Homo sapiens: one gene and its partners. The protein of the gene in region 4 interacts with the protein of the main gene of each other region in a pairwise test. Each region holds a gene or a part of one and is shown on either strand. Other genes may lie near its edges.

Region 1 (3,734 bases), on a different chromosome or scaffold from region 4:
GCACTTTGAGAGGCCGAGGTGGGCGGATCACCTGAGGTCAGGAGTTCGAGACCAGCCTGACCAACATGGAGAAACCCCGTCTCTACTAAAAATACAAAATTAGCCAGGCGTGGTCATGCATGCCTGTAATCCCGGCTACTCAGGAGGCTGAGGCAGGAGAATCACTTGAACCTGGGAGCCGAAATCGCGCCATTGCACTCCAGCCTGGGCAACAAGAGCGAAACTCCATCTCCAAAAAAAAAAAAACCAGACCCAACTCCCTACCTTCATGGAGCCTACATTATAACAAATAAATTAACAAAGAGGATAATAGCAGACTGAGAGAAACTCGAGGAGATCCTCATGTAGGGTTTTATGGTAGAGAATAGAATAATGAGGGGTGCTGCTTAGATATAGGGAAAAATTAAACCCAATTAAACAATTCTGACATTTATTGAGCTCACACTGTGTGCCGGGCAATACACTGGGTGCTAGGTGCACAAGAATGAGCACGGCTGGCATGGGCACTACCCTCACAATGATGTTTACCTCCTGCAGGGTGGGATGACAGAGACCCACAGACACAATCCCCGCACAGGTTTCTGAGACTCCCCCACTATTTGGCCAAATCACATAACCACTCTGGGTCTCAATTTCCTCATCTGTAAAAAGGAATACTAATAATATCTACCTCACAGGGTCGTGGTTAGCATTCAATGAGTTAATATTCATCAGGTGCTTAGCACAGTGCCTGGCACACAATAAGTGCTCCATCAGTGTCTGTTCAATAAGTAAAATAAATTTAAGGGACTCAGGAAAGAGGACAGGGGTTGAGTTGGAAACTGGGGGTCTTCGAGTACTGAGGGTAAATGTAGGCTCAAGTGATCACCCAGTGGGGAGATGGAAGAGTGAAAGTAGAAGAAAACCTAGCACAGGCCCTGAGCAATGATGGAAAAGAGAGGAGATGCCGGGAAAGTGTGGCCTGAGAGGCAGAGGGGCAGCCAGGTATCCATGGGTCCACAAAGGCAAGGGAGAAAAGAGTCTGGGGAAGGAGGGGGAGCTGGCAGCAAGGGACACTGCTTAGAGCCAGTCCTTTGGGGATCCACAAGACCACAACCATCCCCTGTGCCCCCTCCCCACGCCTCCCATGTCTAGAACTTTGGGTCCTAAGGCTCTAGCCCACAAGTCCCCTAGAAAAACAGTCTTGGCCCTGGGTCCCCCTGAGCAAAATCCCTCCCAAACTGCCCTAATACCCAAGGACCTCTCATTCCCTCTTAGGGACCCCCTCTCCTGACCCAGCCCACTAGAAACAGAAACTCAAACCCAGATGCAACTCCTAGCTCCATCATTTAGGAGCTGTACAACCTTGGGCAAGTAATAACCTTGCTAAGCCTCTGTTTATTCATCTGTAAAAAGGGTCTAATAATGCCTTCTTTAGAGAATTGCTGGAGGCTGTCATTAATGAGACATTTATGTAAACTGCTTAGTAGGTGACTAATAAGTGCAAGCCTCTTCCCTCAGGGCCTTTGCTACACAAAGGCATTGGCACCATTTGCTCAGTCTCAGGATCCTGGCCTCCAATCTGAGACTGTGCTCCAGAACTTCTCCCACAGACATTTTCTCTCTACAACCCCCACCTCTCCTCCATCACACCACAGGAAAGGCCTTAGTCCCAGGACACCTCCCCTCTTCCCTCACATACACACACCCTGTTCCAAGATCCCTTTACCCTCCTTTCTTTCTGTCTGTCTTTTCCTGTTATCTAGTCGCTGGCCTCTCCTCTGCTATGCATACATTTTTTTCTCTCGGGGACCTGAACTGGGGTGGGGGAGAAAAGTCAACATGAGATAGGGAGAAAACAAGGTTCAGATCTCAACTCTGACATTCCCTTGCCAGCTGTGTGACTTTAGGCAAGTTAATGCACTTCCCTGAGCCTCTGTTTCCGCCTCTGTACATTTCATTTGATAAACATTTCTTGAGTGTCTGCTAGGTGCCAGCACTGTTCCAGGGCCTGGAGATAAACGGAGGTGAAAACACAGGAAAAAGCCCTGCCCTCTTGTAGTTACAGCAAAAACCAAGATTAAAAAAAAAAAAAATACCTGGTATGTCAGATGGGTACCACTACTATCGAGAAAAGTGGAGCAAGGAAGCCAGGCTAAGAAGTGCTGGTTGAGAGAATGTTTCAATTTAATTTTAAGTAGGGAGATCAGGGAAGGTCTCAATGAGAAGGTGACAGTTGAGCAAAGCTTCAAGGAGATGAGGGAGGCCGGGCGCAGTGGCTCACGCCTGTAATCCCAGCACTCTGGGAGGCCAAGGCGGGCAGATCACAAGGTCAAGAGATCAAGACTATCCTGGCCAACACGGTGAAACCCCGTCTCTATTAAAAGTACAAAAATTAGCTGGGCGTAGCGGCGCATGCCTGTAATCCCAGCTACTCAGGAGGCTGAGGCAGGAGAATCGCTTGAACCCGGGAGGCAGAGGTTGCAGTGAGCCGGGATTGTGCCACCGCACTCCAGCCTGGTGACAGAGCAAGACTCCATCTCAAAAAAAAAAAAAAAAAAAAAAAGGAGATGAGGGAGTAAGACCCGAAGCTATCTAGGGGAAAAGCATTCCTGGCAAAGGGAACAGCCAGTACAAACAAAGATCCTAGGGAGGGAGGATGCCTGGCAAGTTCTAGAAATAATCAAGAGGCCAGAGTGCTTGGGTTGGAGTGAGGGATGAATAACACCTATCTCACCAGGATGTTTTGAGCAATCAGTGAAATGTGACTGGTACATAGTAGGTGCTCGATGAATGGTTATTTCCTCCTCTTCCTGGGGCCTTGTCAGAAATGGGGGGACCCATGATTGGGCTGGAGGGTTGAGGGTGTTCTGAGGGGCTGGGCCACACCTGCCCACCTCTGTTTGCAGGCTGCACCAAGTGTACTTTGATGCACCCACCTGCCGAGGGGGCACCACCAAGGTCTTCTTAGTTGGGGACTACTCCTCGTCAGCCGAATTCTTTGTCACCGTGGCCGTGTTTGCCTTCCTCTACTCCATGGGGGCTCTGGCCACCTACATCTTCCTGCAGAACAAGTACCGAGAGAATAACAAAGGGCCCATGCTGGTGAGTCCCCACAGCCACTTGCATGTAGGGACCATGGGGACACGGAACCCCAGGGACACAGCCATGCTCACAGACCACACCAAATCCCAGACAGGCCCACATGCAAACAGCCACCATAACAGCCACACATATAGTTGCTGCTGCTATTAATCCACACCAGGCATCCGGGACACAGAGTCATAGAGTCACGGAGACATACAGCCTATGCAGAATCCCAGACAGGCCCACACCTGAGAACCTTCCCACTCTCACACAACTACACAGCCTAGATCAAAGGAAGAGGCCCACAGAGGTTCGCTGTGACAGTCATGCCTGTCATCATGCCACACAGACACACTGATTCCTACACCACTGTACTCACATACCCTCAGCCTAGACACAAAATGACAAAAATTCCCACATGCAGACAAAAGTAGAAAGACACATTACTTTCCACAGATTCGGAAATCATCCCAGAGTTCCCCTCCCCCCAACACCCACAGCCACATATCACAATCACACTCCCACATCCTCTGTGTCATGTACACACACAAGCTCAAGCTGGGAGGGCCACCTTCAGGTGAAAGTGTTGTGGGCTTGAGAGCTGAAAAGGCAGGGGAGAGACAGGCCTCTTCTGGGGGACCTGTGATCCGAGGAGGCCCCAGGGCCTA
Region 2 (3,734 bases), about 200 Mb from region 4:
GTCAAATCATGCCCCTCTTATGCTTGAAACTCTGCAGTGGCACGTGCTTTCACTCAGAAAAAGCTCCAGTCCTAACAGAAGTCTACAAGTCCCTGCGCAATTTGCCCACGATCTCGTTACCTCTTTGATCTCATTTCCTACTACTCTTCTTATTCAAATACACACAGGTCACCTAGCTGCTCCTTCAATATTCTAATCACGTGCCTACCTCGGAACCTCCACTTGCTGTTCCCTTTAATGAAACGCCGTTTCCTTAGACAGCCACATAACTCACGCCCTCACCTCCTTCAAGTCTCTGCTCCAATTTCATTTTCTCAATGTGGCCCATCCAGACCACTCTAATACCTCAATCCCCACATTCCCTTCATCTCTAACCTCCCTCATAATGCTTTTTTCTTTTCCCATAGCATGTATTACCTTCTAACATACTGTATAATTTACTAATCTACTACATGTGCTGTTTGTCAGTATCCTCCCCAGGAGAATGCAAGCTCCCTGATGGTAGGTTCATTAACTGATGTATCAAGTGCCTAGAACAGCACTATTCACTGAATTTGCTGAATGGATGATACAGTTGTAGGAACTCAGCAGGCACTCAAAACTGTGTGTGTAAACTCACAAAAACACATATTTATAGTTCAAGATGATCTAAGTTTAAACTTTAACGTGGTTTTTAAAAATTAATACTATTGCCTACATTTCATTTTTGCCAGCAAACAATACAAACAACTTATTTTTATTAATTCAGACTCTGCCTGTTCTAAAAAGGTTTTAAGGAGGTATACAAGGATATATAACATATAAGAGAATAAATTAGAAATAGTGAAAAAAGACAAAGGCCAAATGTGAATGAAGTCAATATAAAAAACACACAAATTTTAGATAGCTATACCTTTGCTACAAAGGACACAAATGTTCTTCATTTTCTAGCATGCAATGCAATCAGCTTCACAACTTGCAGCTCCCGTTAGATAGAAACAAACAAAAAAACTAACAAAGCAAGTTCTTAAATTTCTTTCATATGCCTTACAAAGAAGATACTGTATGAACTGATCTCCCACTTCTTCAATAACATTCTTTACTAACGGAAACTCTACTCTTCCAATTGCTCAAACCAAAAAACTTGGAATCATCCTTGATGCTTTTTTCTTTCTCTTAAGCAATACCCAGTCTGTTAGCAAATCCTGCTGGTTCTATCGTCAAAATACATCCAGAATCTAGCCACTTCTCCCCACCTCTCCCCACTACCACCTTGGTCTAAGCCTCCATCATCTCATCTGGATTACTGCAATGACCCCTTATCACACCTCTTTGCTTTAGTCCTTGACCCTTATATTCTATTCTCAACAGAGTAGCAAGAATAACTCAGATCACGTCACTCCTTTGCTCAAAACCCTCCATCAGATGTCCAAGTCAGAGTGAAAACCTAAGTCCTTTCAGGGGTCTACAAGGCCTAACATAATCTGGCCAATACCTCTGGTCTTATCTTCTATCACTTTCCTGCTTGCTCACAGCATTCCAGAAACTCTAACTTCCTTGATATTCCTTGAACATATCAGTCATGTTCCTGCTTTAAACCCTTTGTATTTTTTCTTTCTTCTGCCTGGTATGTTCTTCTCCAGATATTCATATAGTTTATTTCTTTGCATATTTCATATCTTTGTTCAAATGTAATCTTCTTATTATTGCAGATGTTATGATTATTTACATAAAAATAAAAATTCTACAAATTTTGATTAATAGGAGAGTATAGCAAATTGGCTGAATATAATATTAACATATGAAAGTCAGTTTAATTTCTACATATCAGCAAAAAACTACAAACATAATTAAATAAAATATTCAATTTGCAGTGACCTCAGAGAATATCAAATGGCTAGGAATAAATCTAACAAAAGATATGTGAAAATTCAATGGAGAAAATTATAAAAGCATATTAAAAGATGTTTCTAAAATGACCTAAATTCATGGAGAAATATATCACGTTCATGGTTTAGAAGACCCAATATCATAAATATGTGAATTCTTTCCAGGTTAATCTATAGATTCAATGCAATTCAAACTTTATAAGCCTAATAGGAATTTTTGTAGAATTAAATAAGATGATTCTAAAAGTTATATGAAAAAGCAAAGAGCCCAGGACAGCCAAAGCACTCTTAAAGGGAGCAAGGAGAGAAGACTTACCCCACCAGATTTTAGGACCTACTATGAAGCTATAATAATTAAAGACAGTGTGGTATTGGTACAGCAATAGATGAGTGAATGATAGAACAGAGCCTAGAAACAGACCCACATGCATATGAAAATGTGGTACATGGGAGAGTTGGCATGTAAGATCAGTAGGAAATTCAGGCATTCAGATGGGAAAAATTGTTATCTCTATGGAAAAAGATGAAATTGAAACTCTACCTTATATTTTTAAAAAACATAACTGGATAGTTTAAGAAAATGTTATATATTTTAAAAATCTAGTACAAAATACAGACGAATATATTTTAGTCCTTGGGGTAAGACATATGAAATAGACATTATGGATCATCTATTCAAAATTAAGCGTCCAGAAATAATTTCTTAAAATTATGATCAGTTTATTTTGATAAGAGTGCCAAGACAGTTTAGCGGAGGAAACAATACTCTTCAACAAATAGTGCTAGAACAAATGGATAAGCAAATGCAAAAAAGGAACTCTCACTTCCTATCATATATAAAAATTAACTCAAAATGTATCAAACCTAAGTGTAAGAGCTAGAACTATAAAATGTTTGACAACATTTTATATGTATATGTTTTCTTTCTCATAAGAAAACATAGGAGCAAATATTTGTGATCTTGGATTAAGCAATGGTTTCTTAGACATGACATCATAAGCACAAGTGACAAAAGAAAAAAATGAATAAATTAGACTTTATCAAAATGAAAAACTTAGGTGCTTCAAAAGATACCATTAAAAAAGTGAAAAAACCCACAGAATAGAAGAAAATATGTTATGAATCATATATCTGATAAGAGACTTGTATACAAAATATATATAAAACTCTTAACAATTCGACAATAAAAAGACAAATAATTCAATTTAAAAATGGGCAACTCTGCAAATAAAAACCACCAAATTATGTAATTTAAAAGATGGAGCTTTATGGTAACAAATAATATACAGCTTTTATAAAGGTATAAAGCTATTATCTTTATGTTATTCTTTATAAGAACAAAAACTCAAATGTTGCTATAGCCATTAAATGAATTACATCAGAATTATGTATCTACTGCAACTTGCTCTCTATCTCTTGCTCTAATTCTGTCTCTCCCATGCACACATAGAATAGTTTTATTGTGAAATCTGCCATATATCCAAATAATTAGGCTTATTCAAATTCTTCTAAAGAATTACTAAAGATGGAATGCCCCTCAGGTTTATTTTATAAAACTAATATAACTGACACAAAAACCAAACATGAATATTACAAAAAATAAAAATTATAGGCCAATCTTACACATAAACATAAATGCAAAAATCCTCAATAAAATATCAATCAAGCTATTGCAACAAATATAAAATTATGTATTACAACCAAATTGAGATTATACTAGAAATTACAAGCACAGTTTGACATTAGACAATTTCTCTGGCGCAACAGATGAGACCTATCTGATCAATTCAGTCATTACCAAAAAAATTTTTTTTTCCAATAAATTCCAACACCACTTCAGGACAAAAGAAATACCAAAGCCTTAAA
Region 3 (3,734 bases), on a different chromosome or scaffold from region 4:
TCTGTTGTCAGGTCAAACAAATAAAAGTTCCTGTACCACGACCAGAGACACCGTGTGTCAGTGTGAAAAAGGAAGCTTCCAGGATAAAAACTCCCCTGAGATGTGCCGGACGTGTAGAACAGGGTAAGACAGCAGCCAGGGGCTCCCAACAGCTTTCAGGAACCTGAAAAGACCTGATTCACCTGGTACCTCTATCTCTCCGCTGACCCCATGGATCCTCCAGGCCCGAGGCCTCCCTGAGCCTGTGGGGTTTCCTGAGCCTGCGTTGGCCCCTCCTGGTCCATCTGCCTGTCCCCACCCCTACCCCCTGCAGCAGCCCCTTCCCATACCCTCCCCAGCAGGAGTCCCTTTGTCCAGGCTGAATTGTTCACTGGGCACAGGAGGTGACTTTCTAGGTCCCTTGAACCTTTTCAGGCAACCTAGGAAATGTAATTTCCTTTTGAAATCAGAAGAAAACACTTGAATCCAGCCTGGCTTGTATTTTTCCTTACTCTAAGTTGGTTTAAAAAATGTAATTTTTAATATTTTTTATGTGGGCAGGGACCCATAAAGACAAAAGTGTCCGTAGCCCACAAAAGTCATAATAAGGCCATGGGTGGAGCTCCCTTAAGTTCCCATGAGGACCTGAGCCCACCCAGCCGGCCTCACCCCTGGCCCCCGATTTCTCACTAAGTCCTTCTTTATCCTATTTGGGTTTTAGGGGCAAAGAGTAACTTGCTCTTCTCTGGCCCTCCAGTGTTTGCTGTGGTTGGGAGGAACCAGCGGCAGACAGGGTGGGGCGAGGACTCACTTGTACTGTGTGTTAACTGGAGGAAGGGGCTCAGCTTGTGGCCACAGGGGCTTGTGATCTTCCCCTGGAGTGCGGCTCCTCCTAACGCAGGCCTCCCCTGCAGCCCAGGGAAGCTCAGTGTGTGCCCAGCACAGAAGGCTCCTGGATCTACAGCTCTGACCCCAGAGCAGGGAGGCCGAGGGGCTGAAGTGTGCATGCTCAGACCCTTCCCCAGCCTCAAGAAGGGAGCACAGGGGGACCCACTGCTGACACGAGGAGCCTGTCCTCCTGACGCCTTCTCAGGGACTTTGGGCAGGGAGGGTGGCTCCTCTTTCATCCCACCTGGCCAGCTTTCCATCAAGAGTCCCTGTCTCCCTCTCTGTGTGTACCCAGGTGTCCCAGAGGGATGGTCAAGGTCAGTAATTGTACGCCCCGGAGTGACATCAAGTGCAAAAATGAATCAGCTGCCAGTTCCACTGGGAAAACCCCAGCAGCGGAGGAGACAGTGACCACCATCCTGGGGATGCTTGCCTCTCCCTATCACTACCTTATCATCATAGTGGTTTTAGTCATCATTTTAGCTGTGGTTGTGGTTGGCTTTTCATGTCGGAAGAAATTCATTTCTTACCTCAAAGGCATCTGCTCAGGTAGGTGCTGGCTGAGGGTGGGAGCGCTGGGCACTGTCTGCCCTGCCCTCTCCCACTCCGTTCCCACAGACAGTAATCCCCATCCCTGCCCCTGGTCCAAGCGTCTCCAGCCTGGCTTGGTCTTCCTTCTTGTGATCGCCCCATCCCCACGTCCTGTGTATCCCCAAGGACCCTGGTCTCATCAGTCCCTCTCTCAGGGCTGGGGGACCCCTCATCTCCCGGAGCCAACTCCAGGAGGGCAGGGCCAGTTCCTCCTATCTTCAGGCCCAGCCAGGCAGGGGGCAGTCAGCTCCTCAACTGGGTGACAAGGGTCAGGATGAGAAGTGGTCGTGGGATTTATTCAGCCTTGGTCAGAGCAGAACACAGAGATTTTCCACGTGTTGGTTTTTACTCTAGTTCCCCTTCTCATCCCCCTTCCTCAGGGTGTCCCCTAATTGCAAGGCCCCATTCTGTCCCCAGCCCCAGGGCTCCTTGTCCAGTGTCCCAGCCCCCAGCCAGCCCTGCGCCCCACTGTCCTCTGGGAGGGAGGTGCTGCATGGGCCCCTCCCCGCCTGCTCAGGAGACTGCTTCTTTTCCAGGTGGTGGAGGAGGTCCCGAACGTGTGCACAGAGTGAGTTGGTTTCTCCAGAAACTGGGGGCTTCGTGGGTTCAGGAACTGCTTCCCATCCACTGCCGAGCCTGGGTGGGCACAATCCCTTGTCCTCATGGCTGCCCTGACTCTCTGACATGGCCTGGGGGATCTGGGCTGACTGTGGGGGACACACGGCCATTTTGAGCAGCACACAGACCAGCAGGCCGTGCTGCAGCCCTGTCCTTCCTGCAGCCTCGGTGACACCATCACTCCACAGCTGGCCCCATGGGGATGGGGTGACCACCTGACCCACCTCAGCATGGGGTCCTGGATGTGCTGAGCCTCAGCTGCCTGGGGTGACCTCATTGGAAGGGGTTGGGGATGGCAGGTCCAGCTGTGTACTGGGGACCCTGAAGCTGAGCCCGGGGTGTGGACTTGAGTGGGCTCTTTGTCTTCCCAAGGTCCTTTTCCGGCGGCGTTCATGTCCTTCACGAGTTCCTGGGGCGGAGGACAATGCCCGCAACGAGACCCTGAGTAACAGATACTTGCAGCCCACCCAGGTCTCTGAGCAGGAAATCCAAGGTCAGGAGCTGGCAGAGCTAACAGGTGTGACTGTAGAGTTGCCAGAGGAGCCACAGCGTCTGCTGGTGAGTTGAGGAGGGACTGTGCCCTGCCTGGCGTGCAGCCTGCACAGGACTTTGTAGACAGTGGGACATGGCAGTGCCTCCTCTTTCCTGGCCCAAGGGGACATGGAGCCTTTGGGAGACAGGGGACTGCAGGGGACGGAGCAGCTGCACTGAGGTGGTGACCGTGCCAGTCTGCAGGACATCTGCTTCTTACTCCCTGTCCTGTCCTTGCTGTGTCCCCAGAGCCTGGATCTCCACAGGCATAGAGTGGGTGTCACAGGGTTCACTGAGGACTGAATAAGGCTGCACAGTCTCCATCGTGTGCTCCTAACAGAAGTCAGGGAGCCCTTGCTTGAAACAGCGGAAGTTTTAAATGTTCTTCAAAATTCTTACTACATTGAACATATTTCACAGTAAATCTTTGTCCAGATTTCTGATCAAGTATGTAAGGAGGCTTCTGGGAAGAAGTAGGATTTCTGAGTCAGTGTGTAGAAGTGCTTTTGTATTACAGAAACACACACATCCAGTTATTCACATCGATTCACTAGTTTTGATATGACATTGAGTAGGTGTGAAATCTGGACACACATTTGTTTTTTTTTAAGTTCTTTCCTTCAGGATAAAATAAGATGATCCTACCTAATTTTTTGTGGACTTTTAAAGAATGATTTGGTTTGTAGCATACACCAGTGGAACGTAGGTGCCATTTCTTTTGTGATGCTGTGTGAAGTGAGGAATTCCCTGAATTGTTGTGAGTCACTGTCTCCTTCCTCCACGCCTGTTTAGGAACTGATTCTCCTATTTTTCTCTGCTTTTGGCTCCTCTTTGATCACTTGTCAAATACTTACCTAGACAAGGTTCACTTTCCACCCATTTTCTTCCTTTCCTATAACTATACCCCATTTTTTTTAATGAAGGGAAGTATAAAAAGGTAAGGAAATAAACAAAAAATATCAACAATTACTCCACGCTGCTGAATCGCATTGCACCTTTGTTTTGTAATTTGTAGAGATCTGATCTTGCTATGTTGCCCAGGCTGGTCTCAAACTCCTGGCCTCAAGTCATCCTCTCACCTTGGCCTCCCAAAGTGGTGGGATTACAGGCATAAGCCACTGCACCTG
Region 4 (3,734 bases):
GGATCACAGGCATGCGCCACCACACCCAGCTAATTTTGTATTTTTAGTAGAGACAGTGGTTTCTCCATGTTGGTCAGGCTGGTCTCGAACTCCCGACCTCAGGTGATCCACCCGCCTCGGCCTCCCAGCTTCTCTTGGAATTTTAAAGCTGTTTGTAGTTATCAGAGCTAATGCTGCTTTAGACAGCTTCTCTCTGTTCCTCTTGGTTAAACTTCCTGAAGTTTGTCTCCATTACAGGTTTTTGCAAACAGCCAGCCCTTCGTGTCTCTGAGTTGTTGTTTATGCTGGTTAATCCTTACATCTTTTTGCTTTGTTGGGTTTTTTCTTGTAGTTCTGGTTCCTGGCGTGTTCCTTAACCCTGCAATGGAGGCTGTGGCTCTGCTGTTCCTTGGGCTGCGTGCCATGGATCTGCCTCTCTCTGCTTTTGTTGCTGTTCATTTCTGAGTCGTTTGTAATTCCAGCCTCGATGCCCCCTTTAACCCTGTGGTTATTTAAAAGGGTGTTGACAGATTTTTCAGTGCACACAGATTGGGCGAGGGGAGCAAATTTTTTTGTAGTTACTTTAAAATTTGATTGCATTAAGGTCTAATGGTAAGGACTGAAGGAGTTCTGCTTTTTGGAATCCTTTGAGACTTCACTGTGGCTAACACAGTCCCTTTTTGTGACTGTTGCAGTGTAGTGCTAGAAGAATGTATCCTCACCACTCCTTGGTTATATTGTTCCCGCCTGAAGCTGGGCACTTGCTTACTTGTGTTAGTCAGCGGACCAGAGCGTTCCCTAGCTTCTTGTCAGGCTCTCGGTCTGCTGATTTCCAGGAAAGGTGAGGTAGACCTCCCCTGTGGTTCTGGAGGTGCCCGTTTCTGCTTGTATGTCCAAGTTTTGCTTTCTGCCTCAAGACCATGCTGTTTGATGCATAAGTTTTCCTGTTACCAACACAAGAAACTCCTTTTTGTCCCGTTTAACGTCTTATTTCTTCATTTCCTTATTTTCAACCTTTTCATCTTATTTTATAGTTATATTTTTAACTCAATCCAAAAGTCTTTTTGTAGAGTAATTTAGTCATTTACAATTGTGATTACTGATAAGTGGGAATTCGGGCCTACCTTTTTAATTTGTTAGGCTTCCTCACCGTTTTCTTATTATTCTTCTAGTGGATATGTTTCAATTTTTTCTTTTCTTTTTTTTTTTTTAAGAGACAGGGCTTTGCTCTGTCACCCAGGCTGGAGTGTGGTGGTCCTATCACAGCTCACTGCAGCCTTGACCTCCTGGGCTCAAGCCATCCTCCCACCTCAGCCTCTCGAGTAGCTGGGACTACAGGCACATACCACCACATCCGGCTAATTTTTAAAATTTTTTGTAGCAATAGGGTCTTACTATGTTGCCTGGGCTGGTCTTGAACCCTTGGCTTCAAGGGATCTTCCCGTCTCAGCCTCCCAAAGCTCTGGGTTTATAATTGTGAGCCACTGTGCCCAGCCCATCTTTCAGTTTTAAAAACAAACACGTGAGCCCCTCTTTGTGTAACTGTTGAGAGCTGATCGGTCCTGTGTGCCACCTTCCCTAGGTGGAGGCTGTATGTCATCTTAGTTCCGGTGCTTCTTATTCCCCCATCAAGCAACCATGATTATTAGATTGAAGTATACATTTTACTGGTTACTTTATTTACCATTGTTTGCTGTATCCAAGTTTCCCCTCCTTTTTGGCAGTATTTAATGACTTTTTTTTTTTTTTTTTTTTTTTGAGACAATCTCAGACTGGAGTGCAGTGGCATGATCTCGTCTTACTGCGGCCACGACCCCCTGGGCTCCAGCGATCCTCTCACCTGAGCCTCCTGAGTAGCTGGGACTACAGGCATGTGCCATCATGCCCGGCTAATTTTTTGTGTGTTTTTTTGTTTTTTTGTTTTTTTTGTTTTTTGTTTTTTTTTTTGTAGAGATGGGGTTTTGCCATGTTGGCCAGGTAAGCCACCGCACCCAGCCATGACTTTAAAAAAAAAAAATCCTATTCCAGTACAGTTTTGAGGGGGGCGCTGGTGACTGTTGTGGCAGTCCCAGGGTAGATGGCGATGGCTCAGACTTTAGGGAGGAAGTGGCGGTGGTAGCAATGCTGGAGTACTGGCTGGGTTCAGGGGGTTGAGAGGCAAAAGATCAGCAGGCCAGCTACAGGGATTAGGCTTGAGCACCTGGAGGATGCTAAGTGGGAGAGGCTTTTGGGGAGGAGCAGGAGATGGGGGTGAGGAACGGAGTTTGAGATGCTCTTGGGTGCTGAGGCCAGAGTTTGAACAGGCAGTCTGAGGCCAGCAGCTGGCCTCTGGGATTTGGGCATGTGAGTGTGGGGGTGGAGGGCAGAGGTGTTTGAAGCCTTGGGGGGTCGAGTGTGGTTCTAGGCTGGGCTTCAGTGCCCGGCCCAGGAGCAGGCCTCGCTGAGAGAGGGGCAGCCGAGGCGGGTCCAGGGGAAGGCTGAGGGGTTGTTCAGGAAAGAAGGGTGACTTGCTGTGCTGGGTGCTACTCTGACCAGAATGGAGAGAAGGGGGCTGGATGTGCCCCAGGATAGTGGAGAGAAGGGGGTTGGATGTGCTCCCAGGGTCGCTGGTTACTGGAATCTCACTGGAGAGGCTGGTGGAGCTGGGCGGAGAGGGGGCCAGTGATGAGGGGTCAGGGCCAGGTTTGGCCGTGAAGTGGAGTGAGGCAAGTAGACAGGAGCCAGAGGGAGTGTGGCTCCAAAGAGAGTGTGTCAGTGGGGAGGGCTGTGAAGGGCCAGGCTCTGGAGAGCAAGGGACAGGTGCAGGCACCACCCTGCATGCCTTGTGCCCCTCCAAAGGTGAGGCCAGGCCACGGCTGGGCATGCGGTGTGGGCACAGGGGTGGCAGGAGCGAGGGTGTGGTGGGGAGAGGACATCCTCTCCCTGGGGTTGCAGTCTGTCACGCCGGCGTCGCAGGCCCTGGGGTCTGCACTCTGTGGTTCTTGCTGTCCGTGTGGATTTGTTCTTCAGTGACAGACTCTTTGGGTCATTCTTTAGGGATTTATGTGGAAAGCGCCGCACACTTGTCTATTCAGCTCGCTAGCCAGTGTCTGCTTTTGGGCAGGTTCCCCAAACTGAAGGATGCGGGCCAGTGGGCTTCAGAGGTGGGTTGAAGCCACGCTCCAGAGGCAGTGCCCGGTGGCGTTCTGTGGACGTAGTGTTCTTCTCCGCCAGCAGCGATTCCTTGAGGGTACATTGTTAGCACGTCTATGAACCACGTGTTCGCGGTCTTGCTTGCCCACTGAGTTATAAACGTTCTTGATACAGTAAGGATACCAACGCCTGTTAAATATTATTCACCTGTTTCCTAAGTTCAGCAATTTAACACTTGCTTCAAAATCTGTTTTCTTTTTATTCCTTTATGGATTCATTATCTACATATAATTCTTGAAATCTGGATTGTCAAAATCCAAGTACAAAACAAGTGAACCTTAATGTAAACTATGGACCCTATTTGTAGCAATGAATCAGTATTGGTTCGTAACTTGAGACACACATACCCACACTAATGCAAGATGTTAATCATAGGGGAACAGGGCAGGGGGTGAGAGGGTGAAGGAATTCTCTGTACTACCTGCTGGATTTTTCTGTCCTAAAAACAATCTGTTAATAAATAATAAATGGAAGCTGAAGAGTTTGGAGAAGTGCAGACAAAACAGGAATGTCAGAAGAGTGATAAATGGTGAAACTAGGGACATGTGTGTGGATTTATTACA

The links. The genes of interacting proteins can lie anywhere in the genome.
Region 1: the proteins of THAP4 (region 4) and SYP interact in binary tests that used the Homo sapiens proteins (3 or more experiments, as listed by UniProt).
Region 2: the proteins of THAP4 (region 4) and RMDN2 interact in binary tests that used the Homo sapiens proteins (3 or more experiments, as listed by UniProt).
Region 3: the proteins of THAP4 (region 4) and TNFRSF10D interact in binary tests that used the Homo sapiens proteins (3 or more experiments, as listed by UniProt).

The regions. Positions count from the first base shown.
Region 1 is NC_000023.11:49,193,516-49,197,249, reverse strand, and holds part of SYP (synaptophysin), read left to right. Parts: intron 1-2,888; coding exon 2,889-3,084; intron 3,085-3,734.
Region 2 is NC_000002.12:37,970,231-37,973,964, reverse strand, and holds part of RMDN2 (regulator of microtubule dynamics protein 2), read right to left. Parts: intron 1-3,734.
Region 3 is NC_000008.11:23,143,350-23,147,083, reverse strand, and holds part of TNFRSF10D (tumor necrosis factor receptor superfamily member 10D precursor), read left to right. Parts: intron 1-11; coding exon 12-123; intron 124-1,162; coding exon 1,163-1,416; intron 1,417-1,994; coding exon 1,995-2,026; intron 2,027-2,448; coding exon 2,449-2,634; intron 2,635-3,734. UniProt on the Homo sapiens protein: Receptor for the cytotoxic ligand TRAIL. Contains a truncated death domain and hence is not capable of inducing apoptosis but protects against TRAIL-mediated apoptosis. Reports are contradictory with regards to its ability to induce the NF-kappa-B pathway.
Region 4 is NC_000002.12:241,626,929-241,630,662, reverse strand, and holds part of THAP4 (peroxynitrite isomerase THAP4), read left to right. Parts: intron 1-3,734. UniProt on the Homo sapiens protein: Heme-binding protein able to scavenge peroxynitrite and to protect free L-tyrosine against peroxynitrite-mediated nitration, by acting as a peroxynitrite isomerase that converts peroxynitrite to nitrate.